Regions from separate parts of the Homo sapiens genome. Here region 1 is linked to region 2. The links come from fine-mapping of genetic effects on gene expression. Tissue or cell type: whole blood. Region 2 holds a variant in brackets; the other region holds the start of a gene. All regions are shown on one strand. Distances are between the middles of the regions. Region 1 holds the start of CLDN23 (claudin 23). Region 2 has its middle 33 kb from the start of CLDN23.

The links.
Region 1: it holds the start of CLDN23, and the variant in region 2 is fine-mapped to the expression of CLDN23 in whole blood (TOPMed, PIP above 0.99).

Annotation. Positions count from the first base shown.
Region 1 is chr8:8,697,680-8,708,368 of GRCh38, reverse strand. CLDN23 (claudin 23) reads right to left here and starts at 6,432. Exons shown (of 1, transcript NM_194284.3): 1 at 4,273-6,432. The coding sequence starts at 5,970. The coding sequence ends at 5,092. RefSeq lists an enhancer at 5,639-6,606 and a silencer at 6,080-6,699.
Region 2 is chr8:8,730,001-8,740,313 of GRCh38, reverse strand. No RefSeq gene overlaps it. Among named protein-coding and RNA genes, the nearest start is that of CLDN23, 33 kb to the right of the region's middle. RefSeq lists an enhancer at 3,313-3,814. The variant A/G (reference allele first, on the strand shown) is at 6,584.

The DNA.
Region 1 (10,689 bases), 32 kb after region 2:
AGGCTCTCAACCCAGCTTATTGGTCACATTGCTTTACAAGAGGGGCTGCTGGCTCACCTTGTCAGCGCCTTGGTATAACTTGGGCCACCAGTAGGACAAGAGTTAAATGGGTTCAATCAAGTCTTAAGCCATTCTCTCCATGTGCCACTGAAGAATCAAGTCCCCTTGTCAGCACTGTCCCCCCTGCTAAGCTCTGTCTATATTTTCCTTGATTTGAACAAATGAAACCTCATTTTCATGTGTTCAGTCCTGCTTAGTGGAGGACTATTCACACATGAAGTTGCTTATTTTTTGCTTACATGGTGGCTCACGCCTGTAATCCCAGCATTTTGGGAGGCTGAGGCAGGTGGATCTCCTGAGCTCAGGAGTTCGAGACCAGTCTGGGCAACATGGAGAAACACACTCTCTACAAAAAATGCAAAAAATTAGCCAGGCGTGGTGGTGTGTGCTTGTGGTCCCAGCTACTTGGGAGGCTGAGGTGGGAGAATCGCTTGAACCTGGGAGATTAAAGCTGCAGTGAGCCAAGATCATGCCACTACACTCCAGCCTGGGTGACAGAGGGAGACCCTGTCAAAAAAAAAAAAAAAAAAAAAAAGAAATTGCTTATTTTTGATTCTGGAAATGTTACCCCCCCAAAATCAGGGTTTGTTGGTCCGATGAATAACAAACCACGCTCCTTGAGAACGCAGGTGTGTGATCAATAGGAGTTTTATTACTTGGCACAAGGAAGAGGGGCACTGGGATTATTCTCCAAAGCAGTGTCTCCCAGAGGGAATGTGACAGGAGGGTTTTAAGGGGTAATGGAGACAGGAGGGACTGCGTCGCATGCCGAGGAGGGGTCCCAGTGGCACCAATGCAGTGAGTCCTCATGCCAGCACATAGGTCGCATGTGGTTGCTGCTGAAGCTGCTCTTCCCCTGGGGTGGAGACTATAGAATGGCCATGAGGAAAGTTCACCGAATTCATCTAAAAGTTGTTGGGGCCTGTCAGGAGCTGCTTTAACCTGCTGGGTGACCACGCAGGGTCTAGGAAGAAACAGACTGCAGGGCACGAGGCTGCAAAACAGGCTGATTGCTCAAGTTGATTAAATTCCTAGAATCCCCAGAGACCCTCCCTGTCTGCTTATGGAAATATTCTAGAAGACAGGGTGAATTTGTTCCAGATGGTATTCCCTCTGAAAGAATCTGTTAGCCTGGCAAAGAGTAGATGACAAGGTTGACTCAGGGTTACTCCGTTGTACCACCAGCTGCTTCTTGGCCTTACCACCCGATTCTAGAAAGAGAAGCAAAACTAGCTGGTAGTAAGACTGAGACGCCCACCTGTTTTCACATTTTCTCTAGTGGAAACTTGAAGTTGTTCCTTCTGCCTAAAAGGCTCCTCTCTCTCTTCTTTCAGTTCTCTGCCCAAGTACCTCCTTCTTCTTGACCACTTTTCCTAAAATATCACCTTTGGCCAGGTGTGGGAGCTTTCACCTCTAATTCCAGCACTTTGGGAGGCCAAGGTGAGAGGATCACTTGAGCTCAGGAGTTCGAGACCAGCCTGGGTGACATAGTGAGATTCTGTCTGTTTAAAAAAAAAAAAAATTAGCTGGGTGATGTGATGCATATCTGTGGTCCCAGCTACTTGGAAGGCTGAGGCTGGAGGATCCACTGAGGTTGGGAGGTTGAGGCTGCAGTGAGCCCTGATCATGTCACTGCACTTTAGCCTGGGTGACAGAGTGAGACCCTGTCTCCCAAAAACAAAACAAAAACAAAAAACACCTTTCTTCCTCCATCCCTTGATTTCTGGCTTAATCTTTTTCATTTTATTTGTACATGATCACAGGAGATTATTTAAGTTCCACACAGAATGGGCCTGGATGGTATTGTTTTTCATGGTGCCCACAAATGTGCTGGCAAAATGTCAGACGCTCAAAAACATACTGGGTGAACGATCTACACAATGAAGGGAAGGATGGTTGCCAAAGCACCCTGACAGCACCTCCCGCAGCCTCCACGGTGGAGAACCAGCTGTGTGCTCAAAGCCACACCCCTCCTTGGTGAGGGCGTGTGTCCAGATAAGAGCCAGATTGGCGAACGGGTAGAGCAGGGATGTGTTAAAGCAGTTTCTGCCTTACCTTCACAGAACTCACCGTCCTCCTGGCATCACTTGAGTAATCTAGAAAAGACTTCATCCATTCAATGGGGACTTATACTTCCTTTGGGGATTGGGAGGATTAAACATGAGTCTGGTAGGTCAGAGGGCTTGATACAAGACAGAAGTGCTTTGAGTGTGTTCTCTGTGGTGCAGTTGCTGGGCTGGTCAGTGGTAAGTTTAGGAAAAGTTTAGGATAAATTCTTGCCCACAGCAGCAACTCCTGAGACTTGCTGTGGCAGAGAATGACCCGCAGGGCAAACGTGGATCCCAGACTGATGCAGGACTCTCTTTCCATGCTCTCCTGAACCTTTTTTTTTTTTTTTTCTTTGAGACAGAGTCTCGCTCTGTCACCCAGGCTGGAGTGCAGTGGCACCATCTCGGTTCACTGCAAGCTCCGCCTCCCGGGTTCACGCCATTCTCCTGCCTCAGCCTCCCGAGTAGCTGGGACTACAGGCGCACGCCACCATGCCCGGCTAATTTTTTGTATTTTTAGTAGAGACGGGGTTTCACCATGTTAGCCAGGATGGTCTCGATTTCCTGACCTCGTGATGGGCCCACCTCGGCCTCCCAAAGTGCTGGGGTTACAGGCATGAGCCATCATGCCCGTTTTTTTTTTTTTTTTTTTTTTTTTTTTTTTTTAATTTAAGAGACAGTCTCGCTCTGTTGCCCAGGCTGGAATGCAGTGATGTGCTTTTAGTTCACTACTGCCTTGAACTCCTGGGCTCAAGTGATCCTGCTGCCTCAGCCTCCTAAGTAGCTAGGACTCTAGACATGTTGCCACTATGCCTGACTAACTTTTAAAAATTTTTTTGTAGACATGGGGTCTAGCTATGTTGCCCAGGCTGGTCTCGAACTCCTGGCCTCAAAGCATTCCTTCCACTTGGCCTCCCAAAGCACTGGGATTACAGGCTGTCTTGAATATTTCTATAGCAAAAAGGAGTTTGTATTTTTAAAGGAGGAGTTTTGGCTTCGTTCTCTTGATAGGGGAAAAGTAGAGTTTTAACTCCCAGCAACCGAATCCTAATCCTCAGGCAGGAAATGTTTTGCATATAAGGCAGTGGAGAATCATTGGGATGGGGAGAAAAGCAAAACACACAAAAGTTTTGTGTGTTTTTACCAAAGCTTCCCTGGAGATAGAATTATGATGCAGCCCAGACTCACCATTTGCCAGGAGCCCAGTACCTGTACGGTGTCTGCTAGGTGCTGACTTCTCAGGTCCCTAATTGCTGCCTTCGGAGGTGTTAGTGGAAAAGAGCCCTGTTGCACTTTCTCCCTTTTGGCTCTGTACCCTCGAGCAAGTCCCCAAGCGCATCTCGGTAGCAGGCACTCAAAGGTCTGAATATGAGCCACCAGTTGGGATTGAAATTTGAGTGAGACAGTCCCAGCGAAAGCCTTGCAACTCCAAGTGTGGTCCATGAGCCGGCAGCATTGGCATCTCCTGGAAGCCAGTTAGGAAATCTTTTCAGGGCCTCACTCCAGATCTACTGAATCAGAATCTGCATTTGAAAGAGATTCCAAAGTGATACCGCCTACACGTTAAAGCCTGGCTTCAGAAAGAGAGAAAGAAGTGATTCCAGTACCAAATGGCAAGGGAAGTGAATCTCTGTCATCCCTTCCACTCTAACAGGCAGCATGTGCTATTAAGTTAGCCTCACTATAGCTATTATCAGTGCTTGCTGAACTGAATGAATGTTCCTACCTCTGAACGGCAGGTTTTAAAGAAGAGATTCAGTTCGGTTAAAGGTACCCTTAAATCAACCACTTGGAATTGAAGCCAGCCCTGCTGGAGACCCAGTCCCCTTCATGGAACACATAGCTGCCTTCCTGTGATTCTAAACACCACTGCTACAAAGGAAAAGATTTCCAGTCTCACCTCAAGTGGAAACTGGTGCTTCTCGTTTTCTCAGCAATAGACTTGGCTTTGCACAGAAATGGCATGAACCTAAAACCAAAGCAATCAGGGACTTAAGTGGGGCCCGTTGGCTTTTTTTAGTAACCTTATGCTAAGAGGTGCAAAGATTTGAGTGCTAGATTTCAGACACAAGTGCCGAGGCAGCCAGGAAATTGTTAGTAATGAATGTTTAAACTCCCAAACGTTGTACTGAAGACAAAAGAGCTTTTGTGGCTATACTGAAACTATTGTTTTAAAATTTTATTTATAAATAAAAGATATATACATATGTGCTTTAATATGATTAACAGGTTCCATTTTGTACAAAATGTTAAACCTAGAGTCCTCTGCGTCCTGGATGAGGCGTCCAAAGGGTGGAATAGTACAGCATTAGGACCTTTGTTCTCCTCTTGGCTTCTGGAAGAGAAACTCTTGCATGCCCTCGACTTTCACCGCAAAAATAAGTGAGAAAAAAGATAAATCCCATTTATGCAATGATATGTAGCTATGAGTTAATCACGGTATTTCATTCCATGAAATCCATTAAGCTGCTGGCATTTGCATGGCTCTAAGTTTATTTTAAGAGGCTCATTCAAACATGGCCAGGAATATATTGGCCTCTTGAGAGTTTGCATGGCAAGGAGTTATACAGCAGGAAAAAGAAAAAAAACCCAATAATTATATTGATGCAAGATTCATCAGTATTTTAGAATATTGTCGTTTCAACATGTTAAATTGTTTCTGAGCACTGCTGATTTCAGCACTGTCCCTGGTCCACGTGACGCAAATGCCACCCTTTCCATATATTCTTCAGCAAAAATATATGAAAAGCCCGTCACTCCCTAAGAGGACCCTGATCCCTCTGGAGAGGAAAACTAAACTCTTTAAGAAGAAAACCAAACCCAACCTGAACTAATCGTCCAAGGAGTCCTGTTTGGTCCCACGAAAGGCAGATTTCCATCCACACCAGTGAGGGGCAAGTGTCCGGGTTCCAACTCGAAGCCAGGCGGGCCTGTGCGGGGGTGAGTCCTTTGCCACCCGGCGCCCCCCAGGCTCTACAAGCGTCTAGAGGTCGGAGTCGCAGGGCAGCGAGCTGTCGCAGGGGTGGGTGCTGCACGAGGGAGCGTCCTGGGACTCCCACCCCTCCCCGTCGAGGACGTCCACCGAGTTGGTGTAGGCCTTGGGCCGCGGCCGCGGCATGGGGAAGCCGACCTTGGGCTTGGGCTTGGGCTTGCGGTGCTGGGCAGGCGGCGGTCGGTGCTGGCCGTCGCTGTAGTACTTGATGGCGGGCGCCAGGTCGGGCTCGGGCCACTCCACTTGGATGGTGCTGACGCTGCTGCGGCGAGGCCCGGCGGAGGGTCCCTTGCGGCGGCGGCGACAACGCTCGTCGCACCAGGGCGCGAAGCTGAGCGCCAGCGAGAAGCCGCCCAGCAGCAGGAGGCAGCTGCCCAGGTAGCCCAGGACCAGGCTGTAGCTGACCTGCACCGTGACCGGGCTGGCCGGGGCGGGCAGCACGTCGCGGTCCCCCAAGAAGTGGTTGTACCAGGACACCGGGATGAGGCCGAGGAGGCCAGCGACGAAGAGCACGACGCCCGAGAGCCCTGCCAGCACGAAGTTGGGCTCGTCCTGCCAGCAGCGCACGCCCAGCGACGCCAGCAGAAGCCCCAGGACCGTGGCGGCCAGCGAGGTGACCATGAGTGCCCGCGCCACCAGCACGGGCTGGGCCTCGAAGTAGCCCCACTGGTCCGTCTGGCCGCACTCGCGCTCGCGGCTGCTCTGCTCGCGACACATGTCCCACAGGCCCTGGTACAACTCCACGTCCACTGGCTGGTTCAGGAAGCCCTTCACCAGCCGCCAGCCGGGCGCCAGGGTGCCGGTCAGGTTGAGCAGGAGCCCGCAGGGCGCCAACACCATGCCCAGCGTCATCACCACCGGCGTCCGCATCCCGGCCCGCCGCGCCGACGGCGCCCCTGCAGCCTGCCTTCCTTCTCCGCTGTCGCCTTCTCCGCCGTCGTCTTCTCCCTGCCGTGCCCCAGGCTCCGGGGACCCGAAGTCAGCGCGGACGCCCCGGGCTCCGGGTCGGGCTCCTGAGCCCTGATCGCTCCAGGGACGCTCTTTGTCTCCTGCACGGGGACCGTCCCCACTTAGGCTAGTTCCCTCCTGGCGTCCCGGCCGCTCCGCCCTCCTACTGGCCCTAATCGAAACCAGCCCGCGGGCGGGTCTGACCGAAACCGCGGGTCCGGGCGCGGGCGCCCAGGGGCGGCTGCCGCGGCCAAACCTGGCCCGGGAGGGAGGGACCCGAGGTGAGCGCAGGAAGCGGCGGGGCCACCTCGCCCGCGGCAGGTGAGATGGGGATCCGAGCGGCGGGGACACCCCACCTTGCAGCCGGGCGGCTGGGCCACGCCTGGCCTGGACTGCTCACGGCCGGAGCAAAGGTCGCCCCGCCCCTGGGTCCTCGCGCCGCCCCGCCGGGCCAGGCGGGCGGTGGGCGGGGAGGGAAAGAGGCGGCGCTGGCGGGACGCGGTGGCTGCGCAGCTTCCCTGCTGCTCAGCGGATCTCGGTTCCTAGAATTTGTTTCCGGTCCCTGCCCGTCGACCCTGCGCTTATAGCTTAGCCCTTTACTCCCAGAGGGTTCCAGATCGCCCCCTGGTTTGCTCTGCAACTTGCAGCCACTCGCAGAGAAGTGGGCGGTGCCGAGCGCTCCCGGGGATTGGAGGTGCGCTGGGTGAGTGTGCAGAAGCCCACCCAGTCCAGGAGCGTGTCCCAGAACGTTGCACCGGATTATTTCCTTAATAAAGGCTCCACACTCTGGATTAAATTCGTCTCTAAAGAATCTGTGCCAGTGTACTTCTGGGCAGAAGGGTTACACAAGGATTTTACTTTCCTTTTTCAGCCTTGTGAGACTTTCAAGGGGACTAGAAAGAGGGACCAGTGTTCCCGGATGTCCTGCTTAGCGTTTTTTGCAGGTTTATTTAATTTTACAGTGTACTGTGGCCTTTCTCGTCTGTAGGTTATTTTACAACTCTATAAATTATAGAAAGCCTGTAGTATTGCAAATGACTTTTGCCAACATCAAGGCTAATGAGTTCGTCCCAGTGGAATGATTATTGTCCAATGGATACTGACCAGTATGGCATTGATTTGTAAATTCATTTTAGCATTCCTGTTTGTCTGTATATGTGTGTCCTTTTGTTCTTTGCTTTTTTTTTTTCCTTTTTCTTTTATTTATTTATTTATTTATTTATTTATTTATTTATTTTAAACAGGGTTGGGGAGTTTCGCTGTGTTGCCCAGGCTGGTTGCAAACTCCTGGGCTCAGGTGAGTCTCCCGCCTCAGCCTCTGGAGTAGCTAGGACTGCAGGCAAGTGGCCAGCTTCTTTGGTTTTAACATCATACTGGTTTCCTTATTCAATAATGAGTTAAATAACCTCTTTCACACATATTCATTTTATATTTGTGTGAAAGTCACGATGTTTACATTTTTTCTAAAAATTATCCTTTAATAACACTTTTTTGTATTTTCTAGATTTTTACAATGAAAACGTATTGCCTTTATAATTGTTTAAAATTAAAACTATTTTTAAAATTCAAGTTAATTTAGCATTGGTTTGAAATAATTTTGAATATTCCAGAGTGGACAACACTAGGAATGACAGTGACTGCTTTTTTTAAAAGAATATTTTTAAATTAAAAAAAAAACCTGTGGTAACATATATGTAACATACAGTTGACCGTTGTAACCATCTTTAAGTGTACAGCTCATTGGTATGACATACATTCACATTGTTGTGATACCCTCACCACCATCCACTCCTGGGATTTTTTCCTCTTCCCAAACTGACACTGTACCCACTAAACACTAACTCTCCTTTCCTCCCTCCCTCACAGGCCCTGGTGATCACCATTCTACTTTTTTCTCTCTATAAATTTAACTACTTTAGGTACCTCATAGAACTGGAATCGGACCGTATTTGTCCTTTCGTGACTGGCTTATTTCACTGAGCTTAATGTCCTCCAGGTTCATCCATATTGTAGCATGTGTCAGAATGTCCTTCCTTTTGAAGGTTGAATGATATTCTATTGTGCATAAATACCACATTTTGTTTATCCAGTCTTCCATCCATAGACACTTAGATTGCTTTTACCTTTTGGCTATTGTGAATAATGCTGTTGCATCATTTATGTAATAGTGATATATACATCACTTTTAATTTTTTTTAATTAAAAAAATTTTTTTTGAGATGGAGTCTTGCTCTGCTGCCCAGCCTAGAGTGTGACGGCAAAATCTCGGCCCACTGCAACCTCTGGTTCCTGGGTTCAAGCAAGCAGTTCTCCTGCCTCAGCCTACCTAGTAGCTGGGATTATAGGCACCCACCACCATGCCCAGATAATTTTTGTATTTTTAGTAGAGACGGGATTTTACCTTGTTGCTCAGGCTGGTCTCGAACTCCTGACCTCAACTCATCTGCCAACCTTGGCTTCCCAAAGTGCTGAGATTACAGGTGTGAGCCACTGTGCCTGGCCTATGCATCATTTAAAATTTGTCTTGTTTCATTAACTGTGTGGTGATTAACTATCTAAAGCAGGAATCAGTCTGCCATCCCTCTCATACATGTCAGAAGGTATCATGTGTGACACTGCCACTTCATAAATGCTTCATGTGATTTGAATCCTCTTCCAACATAGTTTCGTTTTTGCTTAGATCTCTGTGGAATGAGTGAAGCCCAGGTGTTATTTACCTGTGGGGAGGAAGGGCATCCTGGGGGTTCTACCTCCTAAATCTGTCTTTCGTCCTTCCATGTCTCTTTCTTCTCTACTGCCTCTTCCCAGTACAGGCCATTCTCCCATCTTTCTCCTTAAGCTGCTAACTGGTCTCCTACACCGGGCTTTGTGGCTCCCTTTTTATTAGCCACACGAACCTCACAGCTGGCCTGCATCAACCCTTTACAAGACCATTCCCAGTCCCACCCAGCCCTGCATTCCAGCCCTGTCTCTCCCTCCCTGCCGCCTCATCTCCTCACATTATAACCCAAAGAAACTGGATTTCCCCCCACATTTTCCCCGAACATTGTGTGCCCTTTTGCTTCCAGACCTTTGCAAATGCCCTTCTCTTTTCCTAGTGCCCTGCCTATCACTTCCCCACTCCAGTGCATCCTTAGATCTTTGCTTAAGTGCCATTTTCTCTGGGAGGGTTTCCTCATCCCCTAGATGAAGTTAATTAATTTTTCCTTTCATATACTTCCGTGACACCCCTTCTGTCACACCACTTACCACAGTTCCTTAGTCCTTGAATCATTTTGTTTTCTAGCTGGTCTGGGAGTTCTCTGAGGGCAGGGACCACATAGATCTTGTTCTGTTCTGTCCTCCAAACACATCTTGGTGCCTGGGCCACCGCAGCCACTCAACAAATCAATATTATGTCTTTCTGCCCTGAGTTCTTCCACATAGTACCTACTGAATTTTCCAACAAATGACCGTCTGGCCAAAACAGATTGTGACATACATCTCAGTAAGCAGGTTGATTTGTTTGAATGTTTCTTTTTCCTTAGCATAGAAAACAATCTATCCCATACGAGTATGGGATAGCTCCAGATATTTACGACAAATAAGCGTAGGCCTGTGGGGCTCACTTTCTGCGACAATAGAGAAAGAAGTGACTGTGTTAAGCATAGCATCTGGGGATAGAGCTGACCTCTGTTCCCTGGCCTTCTGAGTTCATCTGAAGTCTGAGGGAGAAATAAAGCATGAGTCACTCTGTGGTAGGAATGAATGAATGATTGCTGACATTAGGACCTGGCTGTGTAAGTGGATACCCAGGTTCTACCACAGATTTCTTTTCTGAAGAAGGGCCCGGTAGTAATGCAAGAATCTGTTCACTATGCTGCAGCTTTTGAAATGAATAGTGAGCCCCCAGCAGTGAATTCTGAAGGGACTGATGCTGAGTCCCCTGTTTGCCTGCACTCTAGGCCTCTGCTACCACCTCGCACAAAGGTGCAACCTGCAACAGCTTCATCTTGGAAAGTCACATTACCAACTTTGGCTAGGACAGAGGGTCCACTAGATCATCAGTCCTCAAACTCTTTGGCACCAGGGACAGGTTTCATGGAAGGTAATTTTTCCATGGGGTTGTGGGGGTAAAGATGGTTTCGGGATGAAACTGTTCCATCTTGGATGATCAGGCAACCTAGATCCCTCGCATGTGCGGGTTACAATGGGGTTCACACTCCCATGAGAATCTAAAGCCACCACTGATCTGACAGGAGGTGGAGCTCAGGCAGTAATGCTTGCTCGCCCATGGCTCATCTCCTACTGTGTGGCCCAGTTCCTGACAGGCCACAGACTGGTACTGGTTGGTGGCCCAGGGGTTGGGGACCCCTGCACTAGATCACTTTGCCATAATAAGATGTCCTCAGATTCCCTCTGCCAGGTCTTTATTTTACTTTCTCCAAAGGCTATTTTCTCTTTTTCTTCCTGGAACTCTGAACACCCTTTCCTGTGTTTGCTAAGCGATAAGACAATTTTGTTCACAATGTTATACTATGAGAATTCTGAATAGGAGTGAGAAATGAACTCCACTGATAATCATCCTATGGTAAATCTACTTCAGTGAGTTATAGAATAAAAATTAGACTATGAAAAAACTTAAACTATGATCTTTATTTT
Region 2 (10,313 bases):
CAGTATGGCCATTTTTATGATATTGATTCCTTCAATCCATGATCATAGAATGTTTTTCCATTTGTTTGTGTCATCTATGATGTCTTTCAGCAGTATTTTGTAGTTCTCCTTGTAGAGATTTTTTACCTCCTTGGTTAGATGTATTCCTAGGTATTTTGTTTTTTTGGTGGCTACTATAAATGGGATTGTGTTCTTGATTTGGATCTCAGCTTGAATGTTATTGGTGTATAGAAATGCTACTGAATTTTTGCACATTAATTTTGTATCCTGAGACTTTACCGAGGTTGTTTATTGGTTCTAGGAGCCTTTTGGTGGAGTCTTCAGGCTTTTCTAGGTATAGAATCATTAAATCTATGAAGAGAGATAATTTGACTTATTTTCTTGTTTGGATGCCTTTTATGTCTTTCTCTTGCCTGATTGCTCTGGATAGAAATTCCAGTACTATATTTAATAGGAGTGGTGAGAGTAGGCAACTCTATCTTGTACCTGTTCTTAAAAGGAATGCCTCCAGCTTTTGCCCATTCACTGTGATGCTGGCTGTGGGTTTGTCATAGATGGATGGCTCTTATTATTTTGAAGTATATTCCTTTGATATCCAGTTTGTGGAGGGCTTTTTTTTTTTTTTATCATGTCCTCTGCTTCTATCCGTCAAGCCAAGGGAATCATCTCTTCTGGGGTTGAAAACTGGGTCAGCAGCATTTTTCTAAAATCTATTACTCATACCAGAGCCTTGGCTTTTGCTCTGTGCTTTGCATGTATTACCTCAATTCTTAGAAGTCTATGATATAGAAACAATGCACAGAAAGATTAACTGGTTTGCTAAATGCCATACAGCATGTAAGTGTGAAGCTGGAATTTGAATATACTTGATCACACTTCAGAAATTATACTTTGTTTTTTTTTTTTTTTTTTTGAGATAGTCTGCTCTGTCACTGAGGCTGGAGTGCAGTGGCATGATCTTGGCTCTCCGAAACCTCCACCTCCCAGGTTCAAGCGATTCTCCTGCCTTAGCCTCCCGAGTAGCTGGGATTACAGGCACCTGCCACCACGCCTGGCTAATTTTTGTATTTTTAATAAAGATGGGGTTTAACTCTGTGGGCCAGGCTGGTCACGAACACCTGACCTCAAGTGATCTGCCCACCTTGGCCTCCCAAAGTGCTGGGATTACAGGTGTGAGCTACTGCACCTGGCCTTGGAAATTACACTCTTATCCACTCCTTGGAATCATCATTGACTTTCTCTTTTAGGGTAGGTTTTGTTTCCTCAATTAACTTTTAATAATTTTAGGAACAGATGATCCAATAAGGATTTATTTAATCTGTAAAATCACTTTATATAGAAGCTGGAGATATATTATTTGGACTTAAGAAAACATCTTTTTACCTACCCTAGAAGACAAAACACAGAAATGTTTTTTACCTGCCTAGGGTCATCACTACGTCTTTGATCTGGAAGATCTTTAAGGGAGAATAATCTGACTTAGAGGCTTATTCAATCACTTGCCATGAGGCAGAGGTTGAAGTAAGAGGGCTCTGAATCCTTTTAGCTGAGTCTGTGGAGTCTGGGAGTTCACTAGGCATCAAAGGAATATACCTCAAAATATTGAGAGCCGTCCATTTATGACAAACTCACAGACAACATCGTAGTGAATGGGCAATGTTATGTTGCTCAGGTTGAGTGCAGTGGCTATTCCCAGGCATGATCATGGCTCACTGCAGCCTTGAACTCCTGGGCTCAAGCAATCCTCCTGCCTCAGCCTCTCGAGTAGCTGGGACTACAGGCGTGAACCACTGCACCTGGATTTTAGTCTATGGATTCTGAGTGGCCAAGAGATTTTATCAAACAATAGCCTTGAAAATTGTATGGGTACACACATAAAGTGGATTTGGGGAGGGGCTTTCCTCTCCAAATGTGTACGTATTTATATGTCTCTACAGGGATATGTAAACATGTAGTACAAAGCATAATGTTTATTATATGTTTTAACTTGATAAGTGGGGATTACTGAGAGGAATGTGAAGAAAAAACAAAGACAGGGTGAAGACAAGCAAAGGAAAAGAAAAAAAAAAAAACTGCCCTGAACCTTCCCTCAGTGATGTATAATACAATCAAATTAATGCATTTAAAGTTACATTATTTAAATGAAATTGAAAACATAAACTTGAAAGAAATAGAAAGAACAATGAAAAGAAAGGCTTTCATTGCCTGTGGGTAAATTCTTTGTAGTTTTTGTGAAAAAGGATTCTGAAGAAGAAAAAACAGAAACTGACTTCAGATTAGTGCTGTTAGGTGACATCATACCCACAGCACACCCCGGGTTCCCCTTATGTCCCTGTGGATGCAGGTACTCTATTGTATCTTGATATGGTTTGGGTGGCTTGCAGGAGCATGTTGGAATAAATGAATGAATGAATGAACGAATGGAAGTATCTTTACCAAGAAGAAGAGCTCATTGAAGCTATTGTGGCCATTTAGTATGGGCACTTACTAATTTTTCTTCCGAAGAATTTAGTAGTTTCATGTGGTCAGTTGCTGTAGATTTTTTGGGAGTTGGACATTGATACCAACAGGAAAATACAGCATGAAAGTAACACATTTTACCCTTCTTCAAGGAAGGTTGTTCAAGTTGCTCGGCAATGGGGTTGATTTTTCCATGAATAAATCAAGGATGTCACACTCTGAAGAGTTGTTGAGTTTGAACTGCAAGATTTGGGTTTAATCCCAGAATCTATCATTTACTAGTTGTATTTTTTGGACAAGTTATTTGGTTTCTCTGAAACTCGGTTTGTTTCCTTGTCTGTAAAAAGAGGTGATGAGAGTTATTATCTCATAGTATTGTTGTGAATAATAAATGAGATAATGCATGGGGAAGATGCCGGGCACATAGGATGCATGGAATAAATGTGGGTGTTTGCAGTGAGAAGTGATGAATTTCCAGGCTGGAAAGATGGCATGATTCTGGGATTCCATGCTCAGTGGTCATCTCAGGGTCCGGCAAGGGAAGATATTCCTGGTGAGAATTAATTGCTTTACCGCTGTCCCTTATATGTAGAGGACGTGTCCCTGTAGCTCCTGTCTGGGGATACTTGCCATATTCATGGAGGCTGGATACTTACTTTGGTTCCTTGGGCAATTTGCAACGTAGACGCTATTTAAGGGACCTTTTGGTATGAGTCAAAAGTGGCATTAAGGGCAAAGTGTGCTGCCCAGATTGAGCCTGTAGGTGGCAGCAAAAACTCAGACTTGGAAAGCCAGCCCACAAAGCTCCAGGTGTATCCTAGAGGGTTCTGCTTTTAGTGGTTTATGGAAAAGACCTGGAAGCTGTAAGCAGCTGTAATTTTAGTGGCGTCAACACACCATTCACAGCTGTAGTCTTTTCTCCAGGGTGAGTAGAGATGTCTCAGATCATTAGAACAAACTTCAGAAAAATCACGTATGCACGTTTCTATACGTTAAAAAAAAAATCAGAACCGTCTTCTCGGCAATAGGAAATTAGGCTGTTAGTGAGAGACCGCCCCCAGATGATGACCAATGAAACCATCATTAATGCCATTTATGCTGGAACAAAGGGGTGGACTGGGTTGTTAAGGAAACGTGGCACACCCTCCTCGGGGTAGAAAGAAAATAGGGAGGTATCAAATGATTTCTCATCACCTGCAAACTCATGTGGCTCTCCTACAGCTGATAGCAAAGTCACTGCTTTTGAATTTCATTTTATTTAAATTATTTGGTTTGCCTGTGCTTGGTATCTCTGCCTATCCCTTAAGTTTCAAATTTTCTGTCAAAAGTTTTACATGTGTGTCTTGTAGGAAGCATATAGTTTGGTATTATGTCTTAATCCGTTCTGAGAGTCCTTATCATCTAATACTGGTGTTCAATCCGTTCACATTTCTCCCTGTATCTCATGGATTTGATTTCACATCTTCTTATTACTTTGCATTTTACTATTTATTATACCTATTGTTGTTCATGCTTTTCTCCTTTTCACATTTCTTCCAGATTAATCAGGACATTAATTTAAAAAACTCTCTGTGTCCTTCTAAAATATAAAGCAATACAAATTTTACTATATATCTTCTGTATTTTAACTCATAGGGTTAGAAGTCTCTGTGAATATGTGACTATACTAAAATAGTCACTCTGACTCTCTAAAGATTCATCATCATTCCTATTCCCCACCAACTACGACATTGAGAAGACATTCACTTTCCCCATGGGTCTCCCATTCCTAACCTCTATATTTTATTAATGAAGTTAAGAATTGAGTTATGGATAATTTTTATAACTTTTTTCTTTTTTGAGATGGAGTCTTGCTCTGTCGCCCAGGTTGGAGTGCAGTGGCACGATCTCGGCTCACTGCAGCTTCTACCTCCCGGGTTCAAGTAATTCTCCTGCCTCAGCCTCCAGAGTAGCTGGGATTACAGGCGCACACCACCACACCTGGCTAACTTTTGTATTTTTAGTAGAGATGGGGTTTCACCATGCTGGCCAGGCTGGTCTTGAACTCCTGGCCTCAAGAGATCCACCCACCTCAGCCTCCCAAAGTGTTAGGATTACTGGTGTGAGCCACCACACCTGGTCAATTTTTATAACATTTTTGAAAACACTTTATAATTAGTAAAATACAATAGTACAAAGAATACTGGTAATGCCCTTTACTCAGATTTACCTGTTATTAATATGTTATAACATTTGCTCTATTCATTTGCTTTCTCTCTGTACACACACACACGCACACACACATACACATGTGTGTGATTATTTTCAGAACCATTTGAGGGTAAGGTACGTATATCATGGCTGTTATCCCTAAACACTTCAGTGTGTACTTCCTAAGAAGAGTGACATTCTCTTACATATCCATAGTATAGTTACAGATTTCATAAATTTCTATTAATGTCATATTTTTATCTAATCTATGGCCCATATTCATGTCTTGTTGGTTGACCTAATAATGTCTTTCACAGGACTCCTCACTGCTCTCCAGGGAGGATCCAGGCCAGGGTTAAATATCACATTTAGTTGGCATGTCTCTTTAGCCTCCTTTGACCTGCAACTCCCCACAGCCTTTCTTAGTCTTTTATGACATCAATAGTTTTTAGGCATACATTCCCCTCTGACATTTTAAAAACAGAATGTTGTTTCGTTTGCATTTTTCTGATGATTCTATTGTGATTAGATTCAGGTTACACATTCTCATGAAGGGATTTTGTGTCTTCTTCAGGACATTCTATCTGGAGGCATGCAGCATCCACTGCCCTTCATGAACCATGTTAATTTTGATCCCCTACGCAGGTTGTGTCCCTGATAATTTTAATTGTTTCTGATATTTATCTGATGTGAATGTAGCCATTCTAGCTTTCTTTTAATTAGTATTTGCATAATGTATGCTTTCCATCCTTTCATTACATTTATCACATTTTAAAATATCAATGTCATTGCATTTAAAGTGGATTACTTACAGAAGGCATATAGTTGGGTCTTTTTGTAAAATGCATGTTTATAAATTTCTGTCTTTTAATTAGTTTGTTTAGATCACATCTTAGTCTGCTGGGTTTTTATAACAAAACACCATAAACTAGGTGGCTTATAAACAACATAAATTTATTCTTCAGAGTTCTAGTGGCTGGGAAGTCCAAGATCCAGGTGCTGGCAGATGCAAAGTCTGGTGAGAGCCCACTTTCTGGCTCACATGGTGGGAGGGGCAGGGCAGTTCTCTGGGACCTCTTTTATAAGGGTATTAATCCCATTCATGAGGGCTCTGGTCTTCATGACCTAATCACCTTCCAAAGGCCCCGTCTCCTAATATCATGACTTTGGTGATTGAGGCTCAACATATTAATTTTGGGGAGATGCAAACATTCAGATTATAACCAATTAGTATAATTTAATGTAATTATTTAAATGGTTAAACTTAGGTCTATCATTTTATTATTTGTTTCCTGTTTGCTTTATACGAAAAAAAGAAAAAACAAACCCTGGCAGGGGTGAAGGTTAATAAACACGTAAACCATACATGTGCAGGGGAATTGATCCATTAAGTAAATGCATGGCAGATGGTGGGAGCTAGTTTTCTCACTGTTGGAGTGAGATGTTACAGATAAGCAAGGGGAAAATGCTAGGATGATCCATATGGTAATGGATTAGAGATGCAGACATGACATTAGTATGAATTCATTTTGTTTAATACAAATACAGATGGTTGTAGATGGAAACATTGATAGATATATGTATATATAGGGGTTAGTATACACACATATGTTTCTTTGCTCTATCATCTGAGAAGGCCTGTAAGCAATAACCTGCCAGTGCAATGGGCATATGTTGCGTCCAGATCTTGATTTCGAATCCCATTCTCCAATAAAAGGAACTAGGGCTTCCTGAGAAATGGCTGATTCTAGGGCTTGAGCAGGAAATATACAAGATGAGCCTGGAGGCTGGGTGTGATGGCCCACGCCTGTAACCCCAGCACTTTGGGAGGCCGAGGTGTGTGCATCACCTGAGGTCAGGAGTTCAAGACCAGCCTGGACAACATGGTGAAAACCCATCGCTACTAAAAATACAAACAAACAAACAAACAAAA[A/G]AGCTGGGCATGGTGGTGGGCGCTTGTAATCTCAGCCACTTGGGAGGCTGAGGCAGGAGAATTGCTTGAACCTGGGAGGCGGAGGTCGCAGTGACCCGAGATCACGCCACTGCACTTCAGCCTGGGTGACAGAGTGAGAGTCCATCTAAAAAAAAAAAAAAGAAAAATAAAAAAACAAGATGAGAGTGGAGTATCTTGTAGCATCAGAAAGTGAGGAAATGCTCAAAGAACAGCAATAACAGTAACATTAATGAAGATATGTCAAAAGACTGCAGGAGCACTCTCAAAGGTCAACTTGAGCAACAGTTTTTCTTCTCATATTCATTTTTAAATTTTCATTCATTTTTATTGTAGTGCTTAAAAATATTACAAGATTAGAACAAATCTTTTTTCAAGTCAGTCTTGGAGTATACAAAAATATTAGTCATCTCTCTACCTTCTAATACCACATAGCGAAGAATGGATGTTAACAGCTGATGCATCTTTTTACATTTCTTTAAACTTTTATTTTAGATTCAAGGGTATATGTGCAGGTTTGTTACATAGGTAAACTCATGTCATGGGGGTTTGGGGTACAGATTATTTTGTCACCCAGGTACTAAGTATAGTACCCAATGGTTATTTTTCCTGATCCTTTCCCTCTTCCCACCCTTCACCACCAACATGCTTTCATGTCATGACCATAGCGAAAGGTGCACATAGAGAAAGTATCATTCCCTCCCAGGTTCCTCCTATCCATTTCCTGCTCTCCTCCACTCCTTGTAGGAAATCCACTTCTTTGATATCTGGTTTATCTTTCCTGCGTTTCTTTTTATAAAGATAAGTAGAGAAATGTATGTGTTCTTATTTTTCTTTCTTCTTACATGAAGGTAACATAAATATATGTTTGTTTGCAGTTTGATTATTTTTCACTTACAGTAATAATGTCACCAATTCCAGGTCATTAAAATTTTTTCCTTATAAGATATTTATTTTTCTGTTTCAAAAGCATTTATTATCACTCAGAGTTTACAATTATATTATTTGGGATATAACTGTAGGAAAGTGTCAGATAGGAAAATTGTTTCTTTTTTCTCTTTTTTTTTTTTTTTTTTTTTTTTTTGAGATAGGGTCTCGCTCTATTGCCAAAGCTGAAGTACAGTGGCATGACCCCGGCTCACTGCAACCTCCACCTCCCAAGCTCAAGCCTCATGCCTCAGCTTCCCAAGTAGCTGGAACTACAGGTGCACACCAACATGTTGGCTAATTTTTGTATTTTTTGTAGAGATGGGGTTTCACCATGTTGGCCAGGCTGGTCTCAAACTCCTGGCCATAAGTGATATGGCTGCCTCAGCCTCCCAAAAAGGAACAATTAACACTTGTGTGATGAGGTAGGACCCACAGGGAGAGTACAGACGCCTAGGTGTGCCACAGCAGAGACTTCACTCCAGAGTGTGATGGAACAGAGTGCGGGAGAGACTGCCAAAATTGGGAAGGAGAGAGTAGTGGAGAGTAGTCAACTTAAGAGGCTCAATGGCCTTCTTGAGAGGCACATGGCCAGCCCGGGAGACTTTGCCAGATGGTGAATGAAGACTCTGACCTCACTCTTCCCTTCCTTGAGACTCCTGATGGGGCTCCTCAGTGTCTGAACCCAGTGGTAGCCAGAGGACACAGGGCCTCATTGAAGAGTCCATGTCTGTCAGTCTCCCAGGCAGGGCGGGGAAGACAGAAGGTGACCTTCACACACTTTTGCAGTATCTAATGAAATTGTACTTTTTACAAGAATATATATTCCATTCCCAGTATTCTGTATTCTTATTTTGCTTCCCTGTCATTAAATCTTAGAATTGAATTAATCTTTACTTTCTTTTTGAGCATTTTGTGATTTTCTTTGTAGTGGTACAACAATGATCAACTTCTGAATTCTTGAAAGTCTAAAAATATCCTTTTTTTTTTTTTTTAAATGAGACAGAGTCTTGCTCTGTTGTCCAGGCTGGAATGCAGTGCCATGATCTCAGCTCACTGCAACCTCCAGCTCCTGGATTCAAGCGATCCTCCCACCTCAGCCTCCAAAGTAGTTGAGATTAGAAGCATGTGCCACCATCCCTGGCTAATTTTTGTATTTTTAGTACAGATGGGTTTTCGCCATGTAGCCCAGGCTGGTCTTGAACTCCTGACCTCAGGTGATCCACCTGCCTTGGCCTTCGGAAGTGTTGGGATTACAGGTGTCAGCCACTGCACCTGGCCTAAAAATAGTCTTCTTTTGCACTCATATTTGAACATGATGCATCTGTACAGGATTCTCAGCCCATGGGAAATAAGACTATCAATAGAAACTTCCATGTTTCTTTCTATCGAAAGTCTGAAATGAGAAGTTTGGTGCTAGCCTGGATTCTCTTCCTATTCAAGAACTCGTTTTCTCTGTCTAACATGTTGTACAGCTTGAGGGTCCCTAATCCGAGTATGCAAAATCTGAAAGGCTCCAATATCTGAAACTTTTTGAGTACCAACATGACTCCACAAGTAAAAAATTCCACACCTGACCTCATGTACAGAAAGTTTGTTTCAAGTACAAAGTTGTTAAAATAATGTATAAAATTACCTTCAGGCTATGTGTATCAGGTGTATATGAAACGTAAATGAATTTCATGTTTAGACTTGGTACCATCTCCAGGATATCTCATTATGCATATGCAAATATTCCAAAATCGGAAAAGATCAGAGATCTGAAACATTTCTGGTCCAAGCATTTAGGATTAGAGATACTCAATCTGTGTTTTCTCCATCCTCGGGGTTCAGAAATTTCAGTGATGTATGGCCGAGGATATCCAATCTCATTCATTTTGCTTGGGAATTAATGAACACTTTCTAACAGGAAACAAGTCTCTTCAGCTCAGGGAAGTTTTTCCTTCCTTCCTTCCTTCCTTCCTCCCTCCCTCCCTCCCTCCCTCCCTCCCTTCCTTCCTTTCTTTCTTTCTTCCTTTTTTTTTTCTTTTGAGATGGAGTTTTGCTCTTGTCACCCAGGCTGGAGTGCAATGGCGTGATCTCGGCTCACTACAACCTCCACCTCCCTGGTTCAAGTGATTCTCCTGCCTCAGCCTCCTGAGTAGCTGGGATTATAGGCACCTGCCACCTTGCCCAGCTAATTTTTGTATTTTTCTTAGAGACGGGGCTTCACCATGTTGCCCAGGCTGGTATTGAACTCCTGACCTCAGGTGATCCACCCACCTTGGCCTCCAAAGTGCTGGGATTACAGGTGTGAGCCACCGCAACTGGCTTTTTTTTTTTTTTTTTTTTTTGAGATGGAATCTCGCTCTGTCACCCAAGCTGGAGTGCAGTGGCACCATATTGGCTCACTGCAACGTCTGTCTCCCGAGTTCAAGCGATTCTCATGCCTCAGCTTCCTGAGTAGCTGGGATTACAGGTGCCTGCCACCAAACCCATCTAATTTTTGTATTTTTAGTAGAGACGGGGTTTTGTTATACTGGCCAGGCTAGTTTCAAACTCCTGACCTCAGGTGATCCGCCCGCCTCGTCCTCCCAAATTGCTGGGATTACAGGCATGAACCACCACACCCGGCCTCAGGGAAGTTTTCTTATGTATACATATGTGAACATTACCATTTCCTCATCAAGTGCTTTTTGTCCCTCTGAAACTGCTATTATTCGCAAAATTAAACTCCAGGCTAGGATCTCCATTCTTATCTCTTCTTTCATATTTTCTGTTTCCTTGTATTTTATTTGGTGTTCTC